Regions from separate parts of the Homo sapiens genome. Here all the other regions are linked to region 1. Evidence: fine-mapped expression QTL. A gene starts in region 1. Each other region holds a variant in brackets. All regions are shown on one strand. Distances are between the middles of the regions.

The links. PIP is the estimated chance that this variant, and not a neighbour inherited with it, causes the effect. A credible set is the group of variants that fine-mapping cannot tell apart.
Region 2: its variant is the best candidate, but not a certain one, in a credible set for the expression of UBLCP1 in lung (GTEx, PIP 0.69).
Region 3: its variant is the best candidate, but not a certain one, in a credible set for the expression of UBLCP1 in whole blood (INTERVAL, PIP 0.67).
Region 4: its variant is the best candidate, but not a certain one, in a credible set for the expression of UBLCP1 in whole blood (TOPMed, PIP 0.88).

Annotation. Positions count from the first base shown.
Region 1 is chr5:159,260,652-159,266,408 of GRCh38, reverse strand. UBLCP1 (ubiquitin like domain containing CTD phosphatase 1) reads right to left here and starts at 3,119. Exons shown (of 11, transcript NM_145049.5): 1 at 3,049-3,119. RefSeq lists enhancers at 2,879-3,386, 3,143-3,452, 3,483-3,552, 3,387-3,894.
Region 2 is chr5:159,312,917-159,318,673 of GRCh38, reverse strand. It overlaps IL12B (interleukin 12B), which reads left to right. Exons shown (of 8, transcript NM_002187.3): 7 at 1,858-1,989; 8 at 2,574-3,894. The coding sequence ends at 1,989. It overlaps LOC105377683 (a long non-coding RNA gene), which reads right to left. Exons shown (of 3, transcript XR_941138.3): 3 at 3,198-3,456. It also overlaps the pseudogene RNU4ATAC2P. Among named protein-coding and RNA genes, the nearest start is that of IL12B, 15 kb to the left of the region's middle. The variant C/T (reference allele first, on the strand shown) is at 1,836.
Region 3 is chr5:159,219,868-159,225,624 of GRCh38, reverse strand. No RefSeq gene overlaps it. Among named protein-coding and RNA genes, the nearest start is that of LINC01932, 5.0 kb to the left of the region's middle. The variant G/A (reference allele first, on the strand shown) is at 2,761.
Region 4 is chr5:159,304,030-159,309,786 of GRCh38, reverse strand. No RefSeq gene overlaps it. Among named protein-coding and RNA genes, the nearest start is that of IL12B, 24 kb to the left of the region's middle. The variant G/T (reference allele first, on the strand shown) is at 3,422.

The DNA of each region.
Region 1 (5,757 bases):
GCTTTGCTGCTTAGAAATTTCTTCTGCCAGATACCCTAAATCATCTTTCTGAAGTTCAAAGTTCCACAAATCTCTAGGGCAGGGGCAAAATGTTGCCAGTACCTTTGCTAATACATAACAAGAGTCACTTTTACTCCAGTTCCCAACAAGTTCCTCATTTCCATCTGAGACCACCTCAGCCTGGACCTTATGGTTCATATAGCTATCAGAATTTTGGGCAAAGCCATTCAACAAGTCTCTAGGAAGTTCCAAACTTTCCCACATTTTCCTGTCTTCTTCTGAGCCCTCCAAACTGTTCCAACCTCTGCCTGTTACCCAGTTCCAAAGTTGCTTCCACGTTTTCGGGTATCTTTTCAGCAATGCCCCACTCTACTAGTACCAATTTACCGTATTAGTCTGTTTTCATGCTGCTAAGACATACCCAAGGCTGGCCACAGTGGCTCATGCCTGTAATCCCAGAACTTTGGGAGGCTGAGGCAGGTGAATCACCTTAGGTCAGGAGTTCAAGACCAGCCTGGCCAATGTGGTGAAACCCCATCTCTACTAAAAATACAAAAAAAAATTAGCCAGAGGTGGTGGTGGGCGCCTGTAATCCCAGCTACTTACAGTTCCACAATGGCTAGGGAGGCCTCAGAATCATGGCAGAAGGTAAAAAGCACTTCTTACATGGCAGTGGCAAGAGAGAATGAGGAAGACAGAAAAGCGGAAACCCCTGATAAATCCATCAGATCTCATGAGACTTATTCACTTATTCACAAGAATAGCACGGGAAAAATCGGCCCCCATGATTCAATTACCTCCCACTGGGTCCCTCCCACAATAAGTGGGAATTCTGGGAGATACAATTCAAGTTGAGATTTTGGTAGGGACACAGCCAAACCATATCAATCAGAAAATACAAAACCCATGGGTACAGATCTAAGCACACAAAGATTATATAGTGGCTGCCACTCATGTAAATAACCAAACATATGTCTCTTCCTGCATAAAGCTTTCTATTTTTCATTAAACTCATTCCTCCCACAGTCCAGAGAACTGGATTTTCTAATCTCAAGGTATTGGTATTTCCAATGCTTTCACTTATTTGATGAAACATTTGATTGCACTCTTCATGCAACTATTAGGACCAACTGCAAGAAAGAGGTTAAATTTTTAATCTCCACTTCCAAAAATAATTTAAAAACAGTGTCTCCTACTAAAAGGCCAATTAGAAGAGAGAGCCATAAATTCATATTTATATTTACTCATATATGAATACAAATATGAACTATAAATGTATATTTACTCCTATGTTTACAATGTGTTCTACTGAAAATGTAAAGCAAGTGTCTTAATTTAGGGTAACGTATTCCATTTTAGACAGAACTATAACAAATGTTATATTCTTCAATTAAAAGTGGACCTTTTGAGTTAAACTGAAATACAGTTTAAATATTTTCTGTAAGACATAAGAATAAAAGGGAATCCTACGAGAGCTAGAAAGGCAACCAGCACTAATATCGCATATATTGTGATGCGTAGTAGTGCAGAGTTTGGAGTGAAATCATCTGAGTTCCAGGTGACCCTGGACAAGTGATTGCTCTTCTAGACTAGTGGTTTTCAAAGCATGGTCCCTGGGCTAACGAACAGCATTGACCTCACTTGGTAATTTGGTAGAAATGTAATTGGGGTGGAGAGAAGGGACCTAGGAATCTGTGTTTTAACAAGGTCAGTCCTCCTCACCTCTGATGAATGCTCAAATTTGAGAGTCAGTACTACAGGCTCTTCAATGTTTTCAGCCTTAAAAAAAATGTGCCAGAGGGCATGGGCTCTATATGGTTAATAAAGCAGCATAAAAACGTTACGAAGCACCTATCCCACAAGTGGAAATTCCAAGTTGGCAAATGCCTTAAAGGGCCAAGCGAAACAAACACCATAAAAATTGTAAATGCATATGTCTTTAAGATTTGTTTAAAAGTTACTGAACCTTATTTCATCATTAAGACCGTTCACACCAATGAAGCAGTGTGATATAAATGCATGAGCTATTTTGCTTTCACATTTAACCTTCTTTCTTAGTATTTTGTATCATTTCAGATCCCATCAGATTTATAAGCTGAAAAATGATTTGGGGTGTGGGGAGGAGTGAAGTTGGCAAACCCAAACAAGCAAGCAAAGAATACACTTCCATATGGTCAACCTAGGGTCAAGAATAGCTGTTTAGGTTGGAGTTCTACCTAACATACTGTGTTGACTTTGCCTAGTCAATCCACCTCTTGGCCTCAGTCTTCTCAACAAGATGAGGCTACTAATATTCACTGGACAGGAGTAGTGTTAAGGTATGAAGTAACACCTGTGACAGCACTTTGTAAACTGTAAAACACAATACAAATGGTGTTCATGATGGAATAAAAACATGCTAAACAATTATCTCATTGAAGCTTCACAATCCTGAACCAACAGCTGTTGTCCTCATTATACAAATGAGAATCCTGAAAAGAAATTAAACTTGCCCGGGACCACAAACCTAAAAAGTGGCAAATGAAGAAATTTTAAAGTATAGCAGTAAAAGTAACACTTTGGGAATTAACGGGAGGTTAACTTTCAACAATCCCAGCAAAAGATAACCGTGAAGCACTAAGAACTCCGGCGAGAACCGCACACCAGCAACAACTGCGAGGTGGTGCAGGGTCGGGGGCTGTGCTAACTGACTTAGGGGAGCATTAGGAGGCAGGTGGAGGCTCCAGAACCAAAAAGGCCGGGATGCCTTCAACAAGGAGGTTGAGGGGAGGGATGGACAAGCCTGAGAAGACGGAGGAATGAAGTTTGGGGACGCAAAACCCACTGGGAAACAGAAAGCCCTCCAAATAGGCTAGACTGCTGGATGGGAGGACAGCGGCCCCCGCGACTAAGCGGGCCGGGGCTAGGGGCCTGGGCGTCAGACTAGGACAGACACTATCCCCAGCCCGCCGCAGTGCAAGCCACGCCGCGCGGGCCGCAAAGCCACTGTCCCCGAGCCCCAACAGCGTCTCCAAGGGCAGCGCGCCAGGGTGCCCCGCAACCCCTCACCTGGAGCGCGGTGGAACCTGCGGCAGCGGACGCAGAAACCGGCCGCTGAGAGACCGAAAGCGACCGGAAGTGAAGGGCGGGACCGGAACCGGCTGAAAAACCGGAAGTGGGTGGTTTGAAACGGAAATATGTTGGGGACGGAACAACTGCTTCCTTTGAATCTCTTCGGGTGCTAATCAAATGGCCGCTGTAAGGGATCTCCACAAAGCCACGAAGAAGCCAGGCCTTTCCGAGACTGTAACCGCTGTGCAGATAGCGCCGATCCCTGGGTGGCCGCTCTCTCGTTCTGCGCGTGCGCTCGTTCTGGGCTGGGAGCGGATGGGTGCTGAGGCGTGTGACGTCTCTAGTAGTGTCGTAACTGGGTGTGCTGCCTTTTCCAGGTGTACTGAGGTCTTCGTGAGATTCAGGGCTAGGACTCGTGTGGCTGTGTCATGTTCCGAATGAAGCTTAAAAGGTGATCTTTGAGAACTGAAGACTTGAGACCCCTCCATGGGCCCAGGGGCTGCCAACACTAATAATTTCAGAGACTTAGAATCTGAGGAGAATCTCCAATCTAAGGGGAAACGGAAGAGGGTCAGGAAAGAGAAGGGGCAAGCTTAAGTGACTCAGAATCCAAGAAGCAAGTCTCATAGGAGAGCTGCGATCGAGGTTACCATACAGTATCCAATCGTCTCAACCTTCCCATCCATACTTCCATGCTGTCTTTCCTCTGAATGCAAGGAAAACCGGTTACACAAACGCTGACAAAAGAATGTCAGACTTGAATGGAAATTCGGAGCAGTACCCATCTGGTCCATACAGCGAACTCCCAGTGAGCACCACGGCAATGTAACTAATTCATGTTTCCCTCTTGGCAGTGCGGGAAAGGCAGCAAAGAGCCAAGTTTTGTATCTTAACAGTTCTTTAGTTAAGAGGCACACGCTATTTTGCATTCTTCCCTACTTTTGATAATTTTTGGCTGCACTAGTAATGCATGAGTATCTGCTCATTTAAAAAACTCAAACTTTTTCAGTGAAAAGTATGCCCTTTTCTTCAGAAAGTCTTAATTAAAAAAAAAAAAAAAATCATTGCCCAGACCAACATTTTCAAGCATTTTCTCAAATCGTTTTCTTGGAATAGCTGCATAGTTTTGGGTCTTACATTGAAGTTTGGTGCTCATATGTGGGAGCTAAAAAAAAGTTGACTCCATGGAGATAGAGAGTAAAATTGTGGTTACCAGAGGCTGGGAAGGATAAGGAGGGAGAAGGAGATGAAGAGAAGTTAAAAGGAGCGAAAATATGGTTAGACAGAAGGAATAAGTTGTAGCGTTCCACAGCACAGTAGGGTGACTATAGTAATCAATAATTTATTTTGTATTTCAAAATAGAGGAGAAAGGTTGGGATAGTCTCAACACAAATGATAAATGTTGGCCGGGCACAGTGTGGCTCACACCTGTAATCCCAGCACTTTGGGAGGCCAAGACAGGCAGATGACTAGAGGTCAGGAGTTCAAGACCAGCCTGGCCAACATGGTGAAACCCAGTCTTTACTAAAAATAAAAAAAATTAGCTAGGTGTGGTGGCATGTGCCTTTAACCCTAGCTACTCGGGAGGCTGAGGCATGAGAATCACTTGAGCCTGGGAGGTGGAGGTTGTAGTGAGCCAAGATCATGCCACTGCACTCCATCCTGGGTGATAGAGCAAGACTATCTCAAAAAAAAAAAAAAAAAAAAAGAAAAGAAGAACTTTTGCCTCCTGTTGCTCCCTGGAGCCTCTCTTCTAATGTGTGGAGGATAATATACTTGTCCTTCATTCATGCATCTCTGTAGCAGCTAAAGATGCCTGGGAATTCCTCCATAGATTGTCAGGTCTGAGAGTCTAAATAATATATGGAAACAATTTCACAACATCAGATGACAAACTGTTAATATTACTGTGACCACATTTACTTTGGAAGATAAAAGGACATTCCTGCACCTAGGCCAGAAATCCCCCACTACTCTGCTTTTATCTCCATCTCCCCCAGACTTTTTTCTCCCCTTTTCTCTCTCTGGCCATTTTCTTTCTCTAGCAAGTGTGTTCTCTTGCCCAGCTCAGATCTACTCCCCTCAAAAAGCTTTCCCTCTCTTCCCAGTTGGAAGACAATCCTCTTCAAAAATTTAGTTCCCTCTAGAAGTTTGTCTCTCTCTTCTAATACCTACTCCTTTGCCTTTATCTTGCCTGCAGTAAGAGAGCTGAAAATATTTAGAATCTGCCCCACATGACAGAATACAGGTTCTTAATGAAGCATGCCCAGTTACTGCCCTTCTCTATTCAGCATGCTTTCCCCAAACTACTACTTAAAAACTCCATTCTCTTCAAACCTCAGAACTTCCAATATACTCCTTTGCTCTAGGCAGATGACATTGTCCCATATTTTGGCAATTCTTCAAACCTCTGAATCTACAAACTAAGGTATATTTTCAGTCATCCTCACTCTTGCTTATTTCAGTTGAGGCAGTTCGCTTCTATTTGAAGCCAACCCTTTAACTTGTTCTCCGGCTTCTTCCTTCTAAGGAAGCTTTCTATAAATCCAGGATTCCCTTCTCTTGCTCTTGTATTTTTAACCTCTTTCTACTGGCTCATTCCCATCAATAATAAACATGCCATGGTATCTTGCCATCATAGCCATCACCCTTTCCTTTCACAGATGGATATTCAGAACATTGTTTACAGTTGTCTGAACTTGACA
Region 2 (5,757 bases), 52 kb before region 1:
GAGAAGATGAATGATGATAATAACAATGACATCCATGTATCACTTAACAACAGGGATACATTCTGAGAAATTCATCTTTAGGCAGCTATATCATTGTGCAAACATATATGGTGTACCCACACAAACCTAGATGGTATAGCCTACTACGCTTCTAGGCTTTATGGTATAGCCTATTGCTCCTAGGCTGCAAACCTGTACAGCATGTTCCTGTACTGAATACTGTAGGCAATTACAACACAATGGTTTGTATATCTAAACAGAAAAGATATAGCAAAAATACAATATTATAACAATATAGGACCACTGGTCATATATGTGATCCTTCTTTGACTGAAATGTTATTATGTGATGCATAATTACTTTTCTTAGCACTTTTCTATGTGTCTAGAGCTGTGCCAAGGGTTTTCCATGTTTATTTCACTTAATCTACAAAATTAACGCAACAAAGGTAGCTGATGTTATTCTTGTTTTTTTACCCCCTTTTTTGTGGAAAAGAGGCTTTCCTTTTTTCCAGAAACTGTGGCAAGGTAAAGTAAAGCTGTAGCTGATGCAGGAATTTTGTGTAGGTGTTAGCAGCACTGCCCTCACTACGTGCTCATTGGACAGTAGCCCAACCCCAAGAAAAGGATGGTTGGTAGCCAGTAGTATTATCATCATTTCACAAGTGATTGAAGACTCAGAGAGGTTAAGTGACTTTACCAAGGTCACCCAGCTAGGAAATGACATAACCAAGACATAAACTCAATCTGCCAGACAGAAAGGCCATGCACCTAACCACTCCACTACCTCTGATGTTGGTCATTGATCTTGGCACTCAGAATTAGTCCTGATAGAGGAGACCTGGGCTCCAGAAGCCTAAAATTGTTGTTTCAACTGAGTGCATGTAATGAATGATAGAACAGGCAAGAGATATCGCCCCCAAAATGGATAGCTCCTGGCTGTTCCAGATATTATAAAATTATTTTACTAAACAGAATGTCTACACTTATAGAGGCTAAGATATTGGCTTCCCAGCTTCCTCACCTTACAGCAGAATTCCTTTGCCTGTTGCAAGGTTCCAGAGGCCCTTTTGTACCGCCCCAGACTCCTTTCACCCCACTTTTAAAATCACTGGACAAAGCCCTAATTCAGCATAGCATTTAGCATGTGGTAGAAATTCAGTGAGCTAGTTACTCTCTGGGAAAATAATTAGGTAGGGAGGCTATCCTGGAATAGATATTTACCTAAATATTATTTTACATCTTGGCAAGTACTTTCCCTATTTAAGATCTGTATGACTAATAGGTGATATTGAGTGCTTCCTATGTGCTAAAGACTTGCTAAGAGTTTGACGTGATTTTTACCTTGAACTATAATTCTATGAAGTAGGCATTATTGTTATCCCTATTTATAAGTGAGGAAACAGACACAGAGAACCTAAGACATTTTCCTGAAGTTACACAGCTATTAAGTAGCAGTGCCAGAATTTGAAGGCAAGTTTTCTGATGAAATGATCAGGATATGGTATTTCTCAATATCTCAGGGATGGCTAGAGCAAATCTGTCTCTCTCTCACCATCAGCTCAGGACTGGGTGAGTGGCCATGGGGTCTTGAGGCAAGGCAATTGTGCTAGAAAGATGAAAGCTGGGCCAAACGATTTCTCCCTCAAGGGCTTACAAAGTACAAAAGCTGCACCTACATGTGGAGTGTCTGCCAGTAGGTGGTGCAAGTTCTATGCACACCCCTGTGAATTGCAAGCACAGTGCCCTAAGACCAAGATGGGCTTGTTTTGGGAGAGTATGCATTGCAGAAACAGGCTCAGCTTACCCTGTGACTATGTTGCCAAGGGGTCTTCA[C/T]AGCTTTCCTTCTCTTTTGCAGAAAGATAGAGTCTTCACGGACAAGACCTCAGCCACGGTCATCTGCCGCAAAAATGCCAGCATTAGCGTGCGGGCCCAGGACCGCTACTATAGCTCATCTTGGAGCGAATGGGCATCTGTGCCCTGCAGTTAGGTGAGCAGGCCCTCAAAGGCCAGCCCAGGCCTGCACTCTCAGTGCACCTGGATGCAGGGATATGATTGGGGGCTGTGTTGGAGAGGAAAGGGGGATGGAGTGGCCAGCACCCAGTTGCCAGAATCAGAAACATACATTTATTCACTAACAGATATTTATTTGGTGCCTTTGTTATGTAGGACACTGTGCTGGCCACAGGGATATTGCAGGAAAGAAAACAGACCGGGGTTCTGGCCTCCTAAAGAGAAAGGCAAAGAAAAGAGAGAGGTAGCCAGGAGGCAGAGCATGGAGGACTTGCAAGCTTGCAGGACTCAGAATCTTGTTCTGGGGGCCCCGGGCCCTGAAACCCACTGAAGGGTTTTCAGCAAGGAAGTAACACAATCAGATATTATTTTAAGAAAACCCTCAAGAAAGCCTCTGGCAAGCATGGTGCCAGCCAAATTCCAGGCCACATAAGGAAGGCCTGGGCCTTCTGGCATGAAATCCCTGAAACCCAGTTGCCCAGGATCATATGTTGTGAGAAATAAGAAGAGACATTGCTGTTACAATGTCACCCCACATCAACTTTTGGCATTCTCTTCCAGGTTCTGATCCAGGATGAAAATTTGGAGGAAAAGTGGAAGATATTAAGCAAAATGTTTAAAGACACAACGGAATAGACCCAAAAAGATAATTTCTATCTGATTTGCTTTAAAACGTTTTTTTAGGATCACAATGATATCTTTGCTGTATTTGTATAGTTAGATGCTAAATGCTCATTGAAACAATCAGCTAATTTATGTATAGATTTTCCAGCTCTCAAGTTGCCATGGGCCTTCATGCTATTTAAATATTTAAGTAATTTATGTATTTATTAGTATATTACTGTTATTTAACGTTTGTCTGCCAGGATGTATGGAATGTTTCATACTCTTATGACCTGATCCATCAGGATCAGTCCCTATTATGCAAAATGTGAATTTAATTTTATTTGTACTGACAACTTTTCAAGCAAGGCTGCAAGTACATCAGTTTTATGACAATCAGGAAGAATGCAGTGTTCTGATACCAGTGCCATCATACACTTGTGATGGATGGGAACGCAAGAGATACTTACATGGAAACCTGACAATGCAAACCTGTTGAGAAGATCCAGGAGAACAAGATGCTAGTTCCCATGTCTGTGAAGACTTCCTGGAGATGGTGTTGATAAAGCAATTTAGGGCCACTTACACTTCTAAGCAAGTTTAATCTTTGGATGCCTGAATTTTAAAAGGGCTAGAAAAAAATGATTGACCAGCCTGGGAAACATAACAAGACCCCGTCTCTACAAAAAAAATTTAAAATTAGCCAGGCGTGGTGGCTCATGCTTGTGGTCCCAGCTGTTCAGGAGGATGAGGCAGGAGGATCTCTTGAGCCCAGGAGGTCAAGGCTATGGTGAGCCGTGATTGTGCCACTGCATACCAGCCTAGGTGACAGAATGAGACCCTGTCTCAAAAAAAAAAATGATTGAAATTAAAATTCAGCTTTAGCTTCCATGGCAGTCCTCACCCCCACCTCTCTAAAAGACACAGGAGGATGACACAGAAACACCGTAAGTGTCTGGAAGGCAAAAAGATCTTAAGATTCAAGAGAGAGGACAAGTAGTTATGGCTAAGGACATGAAATTGTCAGAATGGCAGGTGGCTTCTTAACAGCCCTGTGAGAAGCAGACAGATGCAAAGAAAATCTGGAATCCCTTTCTCATTAGCATGAATGAACCTGATACACAATTATGACCAGAAAATATGGCTCCATGAAGGTGCTACTTTTAAGTAATGTATGTGCGCTCTGTAAAGTGATTACATTTGTTTCCTGTTTGTTTATTTATTTATTTATTTTTGCATTCTGAGGCTGAACTAATAAAAACTCTTCTTTGTAATCATATTTTGGGCATTCTCAGCTGATTTGAGTACTCTGCTTGCAAGTCTACCAGGGGTGCATTTTTTCCCCTATCATTTAAGCATTGCCCTTTCTTGAAGTGATCCCATTCCAAATTTTGCAGAGTTGCTCTTTCCCCTTATAGTATTTCCAAAGTCAGTGTCTTCCTGAGCTCAGGGGATGTCCCTGTAATCTGACAAGGAAGGATCCTTTGCAAGGGCACTGAACTGCATTGTGCCTTTTTTAGGGGTGGAAGCTCTCACTTATTCCACCCTCTATCCTGGAATCGACTCTACTGGTATCCCAAGAATCATGAAATAAAACTCTAACCTGGTACAGCCATGGACATCTCAGCTCTTAGGTCCAGCTCTAGTATTTATTGAGAGTTTGCCGTATATATGGACATGTGCTAGCCCTCAGGGTTGGGAAGTTTCAAAAAGCCTTGCATTGTGTCTCCCAAACAGTGCCCACTCCTAACACTGCTTATAAGGCAGGATGAAAAGTTAACTTCACTATCATTACACGCTAAAATGTTCAGGATATATGGTAGCCTGGGGTGAGAATGAAAAAGAAGGATCTGTGTAACCCAGCACCATCCAGGAAGACTCATCAGAGAAGAGAGGGTGCCAACTTTGGGCTAAAGAATGGGCAGGGCCTGCAAATTCCCCTTGGTGCTTCCCATGGAAGGAGGAGATGGTGGGATCAGAGGGAATGCAGTCCAATTTCCTGCTATCCCAAAAATCCAAGTGTGCACATTCAGGCTTCCTTGCAATGGCAGGGTAATTATAATAGGGGTGTTTGTTTACATTCCTGATTTTCAGTGTCCCCTGGAGCCCTATGCCACTCTGCTCCTGGCCTGGAGGAATGGTGGGTGGCTTCTGTCATTCTTTGCCAACCTTTGGAGCATATGGTCCCGTGTTATAAGCCCACACTTGACAGCATATGGTTGTTAATAACAAGTGTTTGTCCCCCTACAGGGTCTTTCATCTGCAGTTACCAAAGTACTTAACGGACATTTAATGAACAACACTAACCAGATTTTTAAAAAATAAATAACTAATCACATTTCATAAGCACTGAGAACTGGGACCTTTCCCCAAATTTCTGGCCAGCCTGGGGCAGAGGTGAGATGTTCTGGCTCCCACCATGCCCAGTGCTTTTGCGACATGACCTCTTAGCATTCGATTAATTTCAGTGCATGCAATGCAGAGTTTTTCTTCTTTAAAGATAGTCTCCAGGACTGTCCTTTTTATTGTAAATCTAGCCACTACAAAATGTACTAAATGTCTAAGCCAAAGATCTTAGGACTGGGAATCAGAGGAGCAGACTCCAGTCCCAACTATGGTTACATAACAGACTTGTGACCTTGAGCAGGGTGTTGGAAACAGCCTGCTGGTTTTCCAATCAATACTCATTCCCAACTGTTTTCTCCCCGATGCCCTCTTCAGCTCTAAATGTTGGTAAGTTTAGCGACCACTTTTTCAGCCACCTTTGTTGCCCAGCAAAGCCAAAACACTGAGTTCTGGCCAATGAGATATAAGAAAATTCTGCTGGGAGGGTTGCTGAGAAGCTTTGGCTTTTCTGATGAAAGACAGAGCCATGTCTAGCATCACCCTTTCCTTCCATCCTCCTCTCTTGAGCAGAAAAAAATCTCGAGAAGCTTCAGAGGACACCTTGTGCCCAGTATGAAAGCCATCATGCAAAAACTCAAGCTAGAGACTTCAGGCTAGGCGCTGTGGCTCATGCCTGTAATCCCAGCACTTTGGGAGACTGAGGTGGGCAGATCACCTAAGGTCAGGAGTTCAAGACCAGCCTGGTCAACATGGTGAAACCCCGTCTCTACCAAAAAAGTACAAACATTAGCTGGGC
Region 3 (5,757 bases), 41 kb after region 1:
CATTCATTCATCCCTTTAAAAATATATATTGAGTAGTCTGTATTGGACACCATTCTAGGCACTGGGGATAAAATGTAAATGAAAAGCTCTCCGTCCAAATAAATAAAACATGAATGAGGTATTTTTAAATAGTGATAAAGGCTATTAAAATACAAACAGGCCGGGCGCAACAGCTCACACCTGTAATCCCAGCACTTTGGGAGGCCGAGGTGGGTGGACCACTTGAGGTCAGGAGTTCGAGACCAGCCTGGCCAACATGGCAAAACCCATCTCTACTAAAAATACAAAAATTAGCCGAGCATGGTGGCAGGTGCCTGTAATCCCAGCTGCTCGGGGGGGCTGAGGCAGGAGAATTGCTCGAACCCAGGAGGTGGAGGTTGCAGTGAGCTGAGATTGTGGCATTGCACTCCAGGCTGGGTGACAGAGCGAGACCCAGTCTCAAAGGAAAAACAAACAAAAAACATGGGACAGTGTGTGAGAGAAAGTGATCAGGGGACAACAGAACAACATTAGATAGTGATTCAGGAAAGTCCTAGGCTGGGTGCCGTGGCTCACGCCTGTAATCCCAGCACTTTGGGAGGCTGAGTTGGGCGGATCACCTGAGGTCAGGAGTTCAAGACCAGCCTGGACAACATGGTGAAACCCTCTTTTCTAAAAATACAAAAATTAGCCAGGAATGGTGGGACACACCTGTAATCCCAGATACTTGGTAGGCTGAGGCAGGAGAATCCTTGAACCCAGGAGGCAGAGGTTGCAGTGAGCCGAGATGGTGCCACTGCACTCCAGTCTGGGTGACAGAGTGAGACCTTGTCTCGAAAAAAAAAAAAAAAAAAAAAGCAGTGATTCAGAAAAGTCCTGTCTGAGCATGTGATGTCTGAGCCAAGGTCTGAATGAAGGGAAGATGTGAGGATGGAGCATTTCTGCTACCATTTTTGTCAGGAGAGTGAACAGGTGCAGAGGGCCTGATGCAAGCATGGGTTGGGGTTCCTGGAAAAGCATAAATGAAGCCTGTGACTCAAGCTGGAGAACTAAGGAGGAGTGTGGTAAGAGAGGAGAGCAGAGAGGCAAAGGTGCCAGGTCAGGCTGGGCCCTGTGGGCAAGGAACAGGAGTATGCATTTTGAACATAAGGGACACCTGGAAGGCTCTGAAACTGGGCCATGTCATGGTCTGATTATCTTTCAGAAATGTATCTAGCCACTGGGTTAGGGATAGACCAAAAAAGTGAAAGCAAAAAGACTAGAATTTAATTGCAGTAACATGAAATGATAGCTCAGCATGAACTAGGATGGTAGTGAAAATGGAGAGAAGTGGACAGATTAGAGACCTATGCTTGAGGTCAAGCCAGTAGGGCTTGCTGATGGACTGGCTGGGCACGGGAATGAAGACTAGGGTAAATGGGGAAACAGGAGAATCAAATTTGAACTTGACTTCTAGATCTGGGTTGGTGGTGCCATATGCTGAGATGTGGGACCAGGAAAGGAAAGATTAAGGTGGAGGTAACGGGCAGGAGTCCAATGTTCTATTTAATTCACCTCCAACATGCCTATTAGACATCTGGGTGCAGATGTTGAGTATGTGTTGGGATATATAAGCCTGGATCCCAGAGGAAAGGCAGAACAGGTGGTGGTGAAAAGAGCAGACTCTGGACTCAACCTGGCTCCCACCTATGTAGGCTTGAACAATTTACTTAACCTCTTTGTGCCTCAGTTGCTTCATCTATGAATTGGGGATAAAAACAGTACTCACCCTGTAAATTTCTTGTGAGGATTAAATGAGTTAATACATATAAAGACCTTAAGACAGGGTCTGGTACATAGGGAGTGTCCAATAAGTGTTAACTACTATCATCAATAGGAGGCTGGGATTTGGACACAGCTAAGGGTACAGCTGAGGGCTGGAACACAAATTTGGGAGTCATTAGTGGAATTTTAAAACCATGGGAGTGGACGATATCCCCTCAGGAGACAGTGTGTTTACAGAAGGCGAAAGGGCCCTGAGCCAAGCCTTGGGTCACTCCAACATTTACAGCTAAGACAAAGTAGCCCTCAAATGAGAGTGAGAAAGAACAGCTAATGAGATAGAAGAAAAACTGGGAAGGCATGCAGTCACCGAAACTGGCAGGTTAAACAGTATTCTCCCCAGAATTCATGCCCATCTGGAATTTCAGAATGTAACCCTATTTGAAAATAGGGTCTTTACAGACCTGATTAGTTAGATCTAATAAGTTCAAATGAGGTCATACTGATTACAGTGGGTCCTGAATCCAATGACTGGTGTCCTTACAAAAAGGCCATGTGATGACAGAGGCAGAGATTGGAGTGAGGCAGCTACAAGCCAAGGAACACCAAGGATTGGCAGGAGTGACCAGAAGCTAGGAATAGTCAAGAAAGATTCTTTCCTAAAGACTTCAGAGGGAACAAGGCCATGCTGACACCTTGATTTTGAACTTCTAGCCTCCAAAACTGTAAGGGAATAAATTTCTTTTATCTTAAGCCATTCAATTTGTAGTCATTGGTTACAGCAGCCTTAGGCATCTAATGCAAAAATCAGGAGGAGAAAATGTTTTTAAAAGGGGGAGATAATTGGCTAGGTGTGGTGGTTTATACCTGTAATCCCAGCACTTTGGGAGGCTGAGGCAGGTGGATCACGTGAGGTCAGGAGTTTGAGACCAGCCTGGTCAACATGGTGAAACCCCATCTCTACTGAAAATACAAAAATTAGCCAGGCGTGGTGGTGCATGCCTGTAATCCTAGCTACTC[G/A]GGAGGCTGAGGCATGAGAATCGCTTGAACCCGGGAGGTGGAGGTTGCAGTGAGCCAAGATTGTGCCACTACACTACAGCCTGGGCCACAAGAGCAAAACTTCATCTCAAACAAAACAAACCAACAAACAAAAAGAGGTGGGGAGATGGTCAACTCTTTGAAATGGCTGGTGACAGGTAGAATAAGATCAGTACTGACAAGGGACCACTGGATTTGGTGAGGAAGTCTTTCATGATCTTGCTAGAAAACTCTCAGTGAAATATTTGGGGTTAAATTCTGATTGGAATGGATTAAGGGGAGAATAAAAGGTAGGAAGTTGAGGCAGTTGCGATAGACAACTTTTCAGGATATTTTTTGTAGTGAAGTGGAGGTGAAGGTTGTGAGGCACAAAATTCAAGGGGGGGATTTTTTTTTTTTTTTTTAAGAGACAGGGTCTCACTCTGTCACCCAGGCAGGAATGTAGTGGCACAATCATAGCTCACTGCAGCCTTGAACTCCTGGGCTCAATCAGTCCTCCTGCCTCAGCCTTCTCAATAGCTGGCACTAAAGGTGTGTGCCACCATGCTTAGCTAATTTTAAAAAAATTTTTAGAGATGGGACCTTACAAGGTTGCCCAGACCAGTCTCAAACTGTTGGCCTCACACGGTCTTCCTGCCTTGGTCTCCCAAAGTGTTGGGATTGCAGGTGCAAGCCACCGTGTTTGGACACATTTTTTAAACAACCGCCATTCTAATCATGTTTCTATGCTAGTGGAAATGACCCAGTAGAGAGGGGACTTGATGGTATGAGAAAGAGGGATTTATTTCAGATTCTAAATGCTGGAAAAAAACAAGAGGCTGAGATTCAGATTGCTAGTGGAGAATCTGATCTTTTGTTGAAGCCAGGGAACCTCTACCACGGTACAAGAAAGAAGGCCTAAAATACCGCTACGTTCTGGTCATTTCATGGTGGATAGACAAGGGATTTGATGGATCACTTTGATTTTCTCAGCTACTCACTCAGCTGAAAATAGTGGAAGAGAGAGGATGGGTGGTGTGGAAGGTTTGAGAAGACAGCAGAGCATGCCCCTCTGGGAGTGGGAAACAAATGTACCAGGACAATGCAGTGGGATTGTGGAGTGGGCCTGAAGGCTCAGATTTGAGATTTGTGATTGGTTGTGTGATTTATCCAGCAATATCAGCCACTCAGGTGCAGGTACAGAGCAGACAGAGAGCCAAGAATCCTTGTAAGTGGCACATTTAAATGACACACCATAGAACTTATGGTGGGTGAAGAGAGATGGCAGGACATAAGGAGAAGATGTAAAGAGCTGGTAGGGTCAGTGGATTGGAAGCTTGATGCTGAGAACACTTGAGTAAAGACACTATGAAGAAAGCACCAGAACCTTAATAGGAGTGGTCAGCAGGAAAGTTTATTGAAAATAAGGTTTTTGCAGCCAGGTGCAGTGCCTCACACCTGTAATCCCACCAGTTTGAGAGGCCTAGTAGGCAGGTGGATCACCTGAGGTCAGGAGTTTGAGACCAGCCTGGCCAACATGGTGAAACCCCATCTCTACTAAAAATATAGAAATTAGCTGAGCACGGTGGCGGGTACCTGTAATCCTAGCTACTCAGGAGGCTGAGACAGGAGAATTGTTTGAGCCTGGGAGGTGGAGGTTGCAGTAAGCCGAGATTGTGCCTGAACTCCAGCCTAGGTGACAAAGCGAGACTGTCTTGAAAAAAAAAAGGAAACAAATAAAATAAGTTTTTTGGAAGTTGATGACAAATTAGCTGAAGACATACTATAGACAATCTCCTAAGTGGAAGAGAGAAGGAGCGAGGGATTCAAAAAGAAAGAAACTGTGGCTCATGCCAGAAAGAGTTTATAATCAATTAAGGGATAAAATATGTATCATGCAGCTTTATAACATGGCAGCATACGTAGGTCCATCTATCTAACTGGGTCATAACAGGCTTGAAGGCAGAAATTATGGTCTGGTTCATTTACATCACACTTAGCACCTGCAGGAATTGTGTGTTCTAATTCACTTATATGGCACCTAGCATCTAACAGATGCTATGAATATGTGCTCAGTAAATACTGACTGATAGTATCTTTAGTATCTTTGAATAGTGAAGGTATAAGCATGATAAGCCAAAAATAATAATAATAACAATTATGATAGTGCTTATCCTGGCTTGGGCTGCTATAACAACATATCTTAGATAAGGTAATTTATAAACAATATAAATATATTGCTCACAGTTCTAGATGTTGGCAAGTCTAAGATCAAGGCAGCAACGGTTGTCTGGTGACAGCCTGTTCCTGGTGATAGTGCTTTCTACGTGTCCTCACATGGCAGAAGGGGCGAACAAGCTCCCTCAAGCCTCTAATTCCATTTATGAGAACAGAGCCCTCATGACCTAATCACCTCCCAGAAACCCCATCTCTTAATACTATTGCAGTGAATAATAGATTTTAACATATGAATTTTGGGGGAACATAAACGTTCAGACCATAGCAATGCTGCTTTCCTTGTGCAAGACATTGTTCTAAGTACTTTATATGTATAATGACACATCTGACCACAAAATCCTGTGAGGTAGGTGTTATTAAATAGGAAATTAGGCAAAGAAAAGTTGAGTACCTCGGCCAAGGTCACACAGCTGGTAAGAGGCAGAGCCAGGCTTTGAACCCAGTTAGAGTAACTCTAGTCTGCACTCTCCTAGCCGCCACCTCCATTTCCCATTTAGAAAGAGTAATTAATTAGCCACACTCTACTCAGAAGTCTATGACCCAAAGCAAACGTTCTTATTTTGTGAAACAATGTGGAGACATTGTATTAGTCTGTTCTCATGCTGCTAGTAAAGACATACCTGAGACTGGGTAATTTATAAAGAAAAACAGGTTTAATGGACTCACAGTTCCACATGGCTGGGGGAGCCTCACAATCATGGCGGAAGGTGAAGAAGGAGCAAAGGCGTGTCCTACATCGCAGCAGGCAAGAGTGGGTGTACA
Region 4 (5,757 bases), 43 kb before region 1:
ACATCCTCCAGCCATGGCTTGTCCATTTCCCTGAAACTCCTCTTTATTGAGTGTTTGGGGTGTTTAAGGGTTAACCAGCCCAATGGTCCCCCAACTTGTTTGAGCCAGGGTCCCTTTGTTCAAATGGAAATCTTAAATGCAATTCCAAGATACACAGGAATTGGGGAGTATGGTGGCCAAAGGGGCTTTAGTTGCATCTGCAACGTTCTAATTTCTTACAAGGAAAATATATATTTTTTGCATAATTAAAAGTTAGTTTTTTATGAAGTCCTATATATAAAGTAGGCAAAAGCAGAGCTGCTCTGGCTGGAGCCTCACACCCACTCATTCCCTGTCCCCTATTCACCACTGAGAGCCCTAAGGCCTCTTCTCAACACTCCTAAATTCTGCAGAACACAGTTTTATAGATGACAAAACAGAAGGACAGAGTTTGGTGCCGTGCCCAAACACCAGGATTAATGCCAGGGCTCAAACTTGAGCCTGGGTCTCCTGACTCCCATTTTGGCAGTTCCTGTTCAAATTCCCAGAAGATTGCCAACTAAAGATACTTTCTTTTCAACTTTTCATTCTGAATTAATTTCAGAATTAGAAAAATATGGCCAAAATAGTTCACAGAAGTCCCATATTACTATCACCGGGTTTCTCTAATGTTAACATAAACTTGGTATAGTTATCCAAAACAGTAAAATTAACATTGATCAATACTACTACCTAATAGATAGACCTTATTCAAATTTTGCTAATTTTTCCACCAATGTGCTTTTCCTCGTCCAGGATACAATCTAAGACACAACACTGAATTTAGTTTCATGCCCTATAATCACCTCAAGTCTGGGAAGGTTCCTTGGTCTTCCTTAACCACGCATTACCTTGACACATTTGAAGAGCTAGGAGCAGTTATTTTGTAAAATGTCCCTCAAGTGACATTTGTCTCATGTTTCTTCATGATTAAATTTGGGTTCTACATTTTTGTCAAGCATCCTACAGCAGTAATACTGTGCCCTTCTCAGTGAATCTCATCAGGAGGGGCATGAAATCAATGTCTCTCAGTACTGGTGAAATTAACTTTGATCACTTTGTTTAGGTTGTGTCTGTCCACCAGTGTTCTCCCCTGTAGTACTCTTTTTTTCTTTTGGAATTAATATATCTTGTGGAGAGACCCTTTAAGACTATGTTAGTACCCTTTTTCTCATCATACTTCTACCAACAGATTTTGTCATACGTAGATGATACTTGCTTGCAAGCAACAGTAATTTCGCCTAATGGTGATTTTCTATTTCTATCCTTCTTTCTATGTTTATTAGTTTGAATTCTACTGTAAACAAGAATTCTTTATTCTTCCTATATTCTTTTTAGTAAAACATTCCTAACTTTTGATGTTATCAGAGACCATCATGTTGACTCCACAGAACCCTTGGTATCTGACTCTCGGGTCTGCCCGGTTTTGAGGTATTCACTTCTGTGCCACCATAAAGAAAAATGCCTTCTTTATTTTGCATTTAAACCTTATGATTTTAGTTGCCATTAATAGAATTTTTGGGAGAGGAGTGTGCTAAATGCTTTGCAGGGTGAAGAGGATGTTTTAATTATTCAAGAGAACTGCTTTTATTCAATTCGGGTGTACCCACTTACACATAAAAATTAATGCTAAATAGATGTAATTTCCATCTATTCATTAAAACAAACCCCAAAGCAGTCCAGAAATCCTTAGTAGCCTAATGTTATTCTTGGCACTTGAAAACAAAACTACTTTTCTTAAAGAAGGAAAACCATAACCTGTGTTTTATAAAACACTTATTCTCACCAATGGTGGCCTTCTTGCTCCTTTTTTCCAAGTACCCTCCCTGTTTCCTTCTCCTAAGCAACCATTCACTCAACACTATTTTACTGAGAATCTACTGTGTGCCGGCCTCTTTTCTAAATTCTGGGGCCAAACCAGCAGACAAAACAGACCTGAACTCCCCCGTTTTGAGCTTCCAGTTTATTCAGGGGAGATAGACTACAAATTCTTTAAGTGGTAGCTGCTTTGCAGTAACATTAAGAATCACAGGGGCAGAGGAACCTCTAATTTAGATAGCATGAACAAGGAAAGCCCCTCAGAAGAGGTAGGTGTGGTGAGATTTGAACAGAGAACAGAAAGAAGTGAGGGAGAAGCTGTGTGCCTTGGGGCAGGAGGCGCATTTCAGGAAAGGAGAAGCAAGTGCAAGGTTCTGTTTTAGGGGCAATGATTGGGCTGCATTTGCTAGTGGGAGGGGTTGTTGTGTGTCCCCTTTTGCTATATATATACAGCCTTCTTTTGCTAAGTCTTGCATTTTTAGTACCTTCCCATCTACTTCTCTCTGCTTAATTTTTTCAACATGTAGTTTTGAATATATTTCCTTGAGGTCTGATATAGGGATGGATAGATAGATAGATATAAATATTAATATAATGTATATATAGAGTCTGACTCCTTTTTTTTGATGTGTAACTGTGGACAGCTTTTAAGCCTTGCCTCTCTCTCTTACCTCTCTGCACCACACCCACACCTGGGCAAGCTGCTCAGAAAGCCTGGGTGTGCCCTCCTTTGGTATAGCATCTGAACCAAATTTGGGGTAAAGATTCACAACAATATCCATCTGTGCTGGTCAGTACAATAGGCGCCAGCCACAGCTATTGAGCACCTCAGTTGGAAACATGGCGGGATGTGCTGTACATGCAAAATACACTCTGGGTCTCAAAGACAATATGAAAGAGGCCGGACAACATATAGACCCTGTCTCTACAAAAAACAAAACAATTAGCCCAGCATGGTGGTGCACATCTGTTGTCCTAGCTACTTGGGAGGCCGAGGCTGGAGGATTGCTTAAGCCTGAGAGGTCCGAGCTGCAGTGAGCTATCATCACACCAGTATACTCCGACCTGGGTGACCCTGTCTCTAAAATAAAATAAAATAATAAAAAACAAAGATAGTATGAAAGAATGTAAAATATCCTATTAATAATTTTTAAGTTGCTGGGCACGGTGGCTCACAGCTGTAATCCCAGCACTTTGGGAGGCCGAGGTGGGTGGATCACCTGAGGTCAGGAGTTCGAGACCAGCCTAGCCAACATGGTGAAACCCTGTCTCTAATAAAAAATACAAAAATTAGCCAGGCATGGTGGCAGGTGCCTGTAAACTCAGCTACTCGGGAGGCCGAGGCAGGAGAATTGCTGGAACCCGGGAGGCAGAGGTTGCCATGAGCCAAGATCATGCCATTGCACTCTAGCCCGGGCCAACAACAGCAAGACTCCGTCTCAAAAATAATAATAATAATAATAATTTTTAAGTTGATTGTATGATAAAATAATATATATCAAGTTTAAAGTATTATTAACATTAATTTCACCTTTTTAAACCTTTTTTAATGGGAGTACAGTATTTTTGTTTTGTAGAGCTGGGG[G/T]TTCTCACTATGTTGCTCAGGTTGGTCTTGACCTCCTAGGCTCAAGCAGTCCTCCCGTCTTGGCCTCCCAAAGTGCTGGGATTATGGGCAAGAGCACTGCACCTGGCTACATTAAATTTTTTAATTAAATATATGACTCATATTTGTCATTCACCTTCTACTTCTGTTAGATAGCATTAACATATACCAAAGTAGTGACAATGACTATGTCTTAGTTTGTTACTTTTTTTTAATTCCTTCTTTTGGATTCTCTGTATTCTCTGAGCATGTATTTAAAAATAAAAAGACATTTCTTGGAGTTGTTGTTGGTGGAGATAGGAAGGCCTTTTGGAGGATCTGAGAAGGAAAGGTCTCCCTACCCAAAAAGTCCAGAAAGGGAAAACATTTTCCAATCAGCCATGATTCTGAAACTGACATCTGCCCTCTCTCCACTGTTTAATTAATCTAAACTTGATCTGAGGCTGACTCCATACCTTGAGTCCCTATGTAATGAACTGCATGCAACCTAACTTGGTATGAACTGACTGAAAGCTAATTTAATATATTTTTGTAGCTAATAGCTGAGCCTCAGCAGTAAAACACAGCAGCAAACCTCCAATCAATTATAGGTTACCAACTGATCAGACCATGCTCAAATAAAGCAAACACCTAGCTGTAACCAACCAAGCTGTCTCTGTACCTCACTTCCATTTTCTGTTCATTTGCTGTCAGCCCATATCGGGGAGCAGAGTTCTCTCAACTTCTGCTGGTTCTGAGAGCTGCCCTATTGACAAGTCATTCTTCGCTCAATTAAATTTGGTTAAATTTAACTTATCTAAAGATTTACTTTCAACACTGCACATATACTGTTAGAGACAAGCAGCCTCTCTCTACAAGCGTTGGAATAAATGACTTTCTTATGGTGACTCTGGAGTTTGCAAATGCATTGGTGTGCCTTGGCTTGCAAGCCCTGGCTCGTTAGCACTGATATGCTGCTGTCATAGGAAGCCCAAGGTGTGGCCGACTACGACTTTCCTGTGTAGTCTAGGGTTGCCATTTGTGCTTAATCCAATCCATATCTACTCTCTACAAGCCCTCAGTGTCCCAGATCCTTGTCCACAAACCTGGAGGACCAAGCTGGGGATGGCTGTCCAAGCATGGATCAAGCTGCTTTGCAGACTGCTTTGCAGGGTAATGTTTTGGAACAAACTGTACAGACTTAGTCATGCAAAATGTTATTGTATTGAAGAGGTCAGAATTCAGAGCACACTTGGCTAATCCAGCAACTGAATTTTACTACTACTGACTCTGATGAACAGAAAACAACTCTGCCACCTGTACACAGGCAGTCAACTCTTTCTACCAGAAGAGGAATGGACAGTAAGAGAAGGCAGAACAGGGGGAAGAAATCAAATGGATTTAACTAGATCATCACATAAAAACTGCAAATGTCCTATCATTTTTCAGAAAGATTCAATGTCTGCTTTCAAAGGATTTTACTATATGTATCTTCTTTACACAAGTACATTTTAAAATTTAAGTCCGAGTGATTTCAATTCTGTAAATTTTGAAATTTCACTGAGTAAGAAAAATACTGACTACTGACCCTCAAGAGGCAAGTCTACACAAATAGGCAAATTTGTAAGTTTACTGTTGGGGCTCTGAAAATGATACCCCAAAGTTTGGGGCTTTCATGCAGAGTGCTTTGAACTAAGGGAGAACCAAAAAGCCTCCCTGAACTTCTGCCCTGCTGTCTCTCACCCCTGTTTCAAAAGCACAGGGAAGGGTGGTCTCTGAACTTGCCTCGTCTGCCTAAAGATAGATCTTCCAAAAAGGCACTCAATTGCCATGAGTTTCCTCCCCAGGAATCTCATTAATTAGGAAAAATTAACTGTATCACAGGAGGAGAACAGACTGAAGGTAATTGCCAAGCCCAGACATTATCACAAACTATCACCTGTTCTGAGGGGTGCTCCAAGACAACCTTTATTACTCTGGAGACTGTTTATCTGCATAACAAGACAACTTTTATTCACCATGCATTTCCTCTCCTTTCCCTCCCATAATTTGTGTCATGCCCCACCCCCAAATTAAGCTCCAAGCCCCAATTCCTTTCTGTAGCTCAGGATGCTATATAAACTTTAATCATCTAGCCCTTCTTTGAGTCTCATCTTTTGTGAGATTCCCATGCCTATGCACATAATTAAAATTGTTTTTTCCTGTTAATCTATCTACTGTCTATTTACTTCCCAGACTCAATGATCAAACCTTAAGAGGGTAGAGAGAAAGGTTTTCTCCCTTACATTACATTCCACCTAAGATCCACAAAAAGAGAAAATTTCACTTTTAGGTAATGA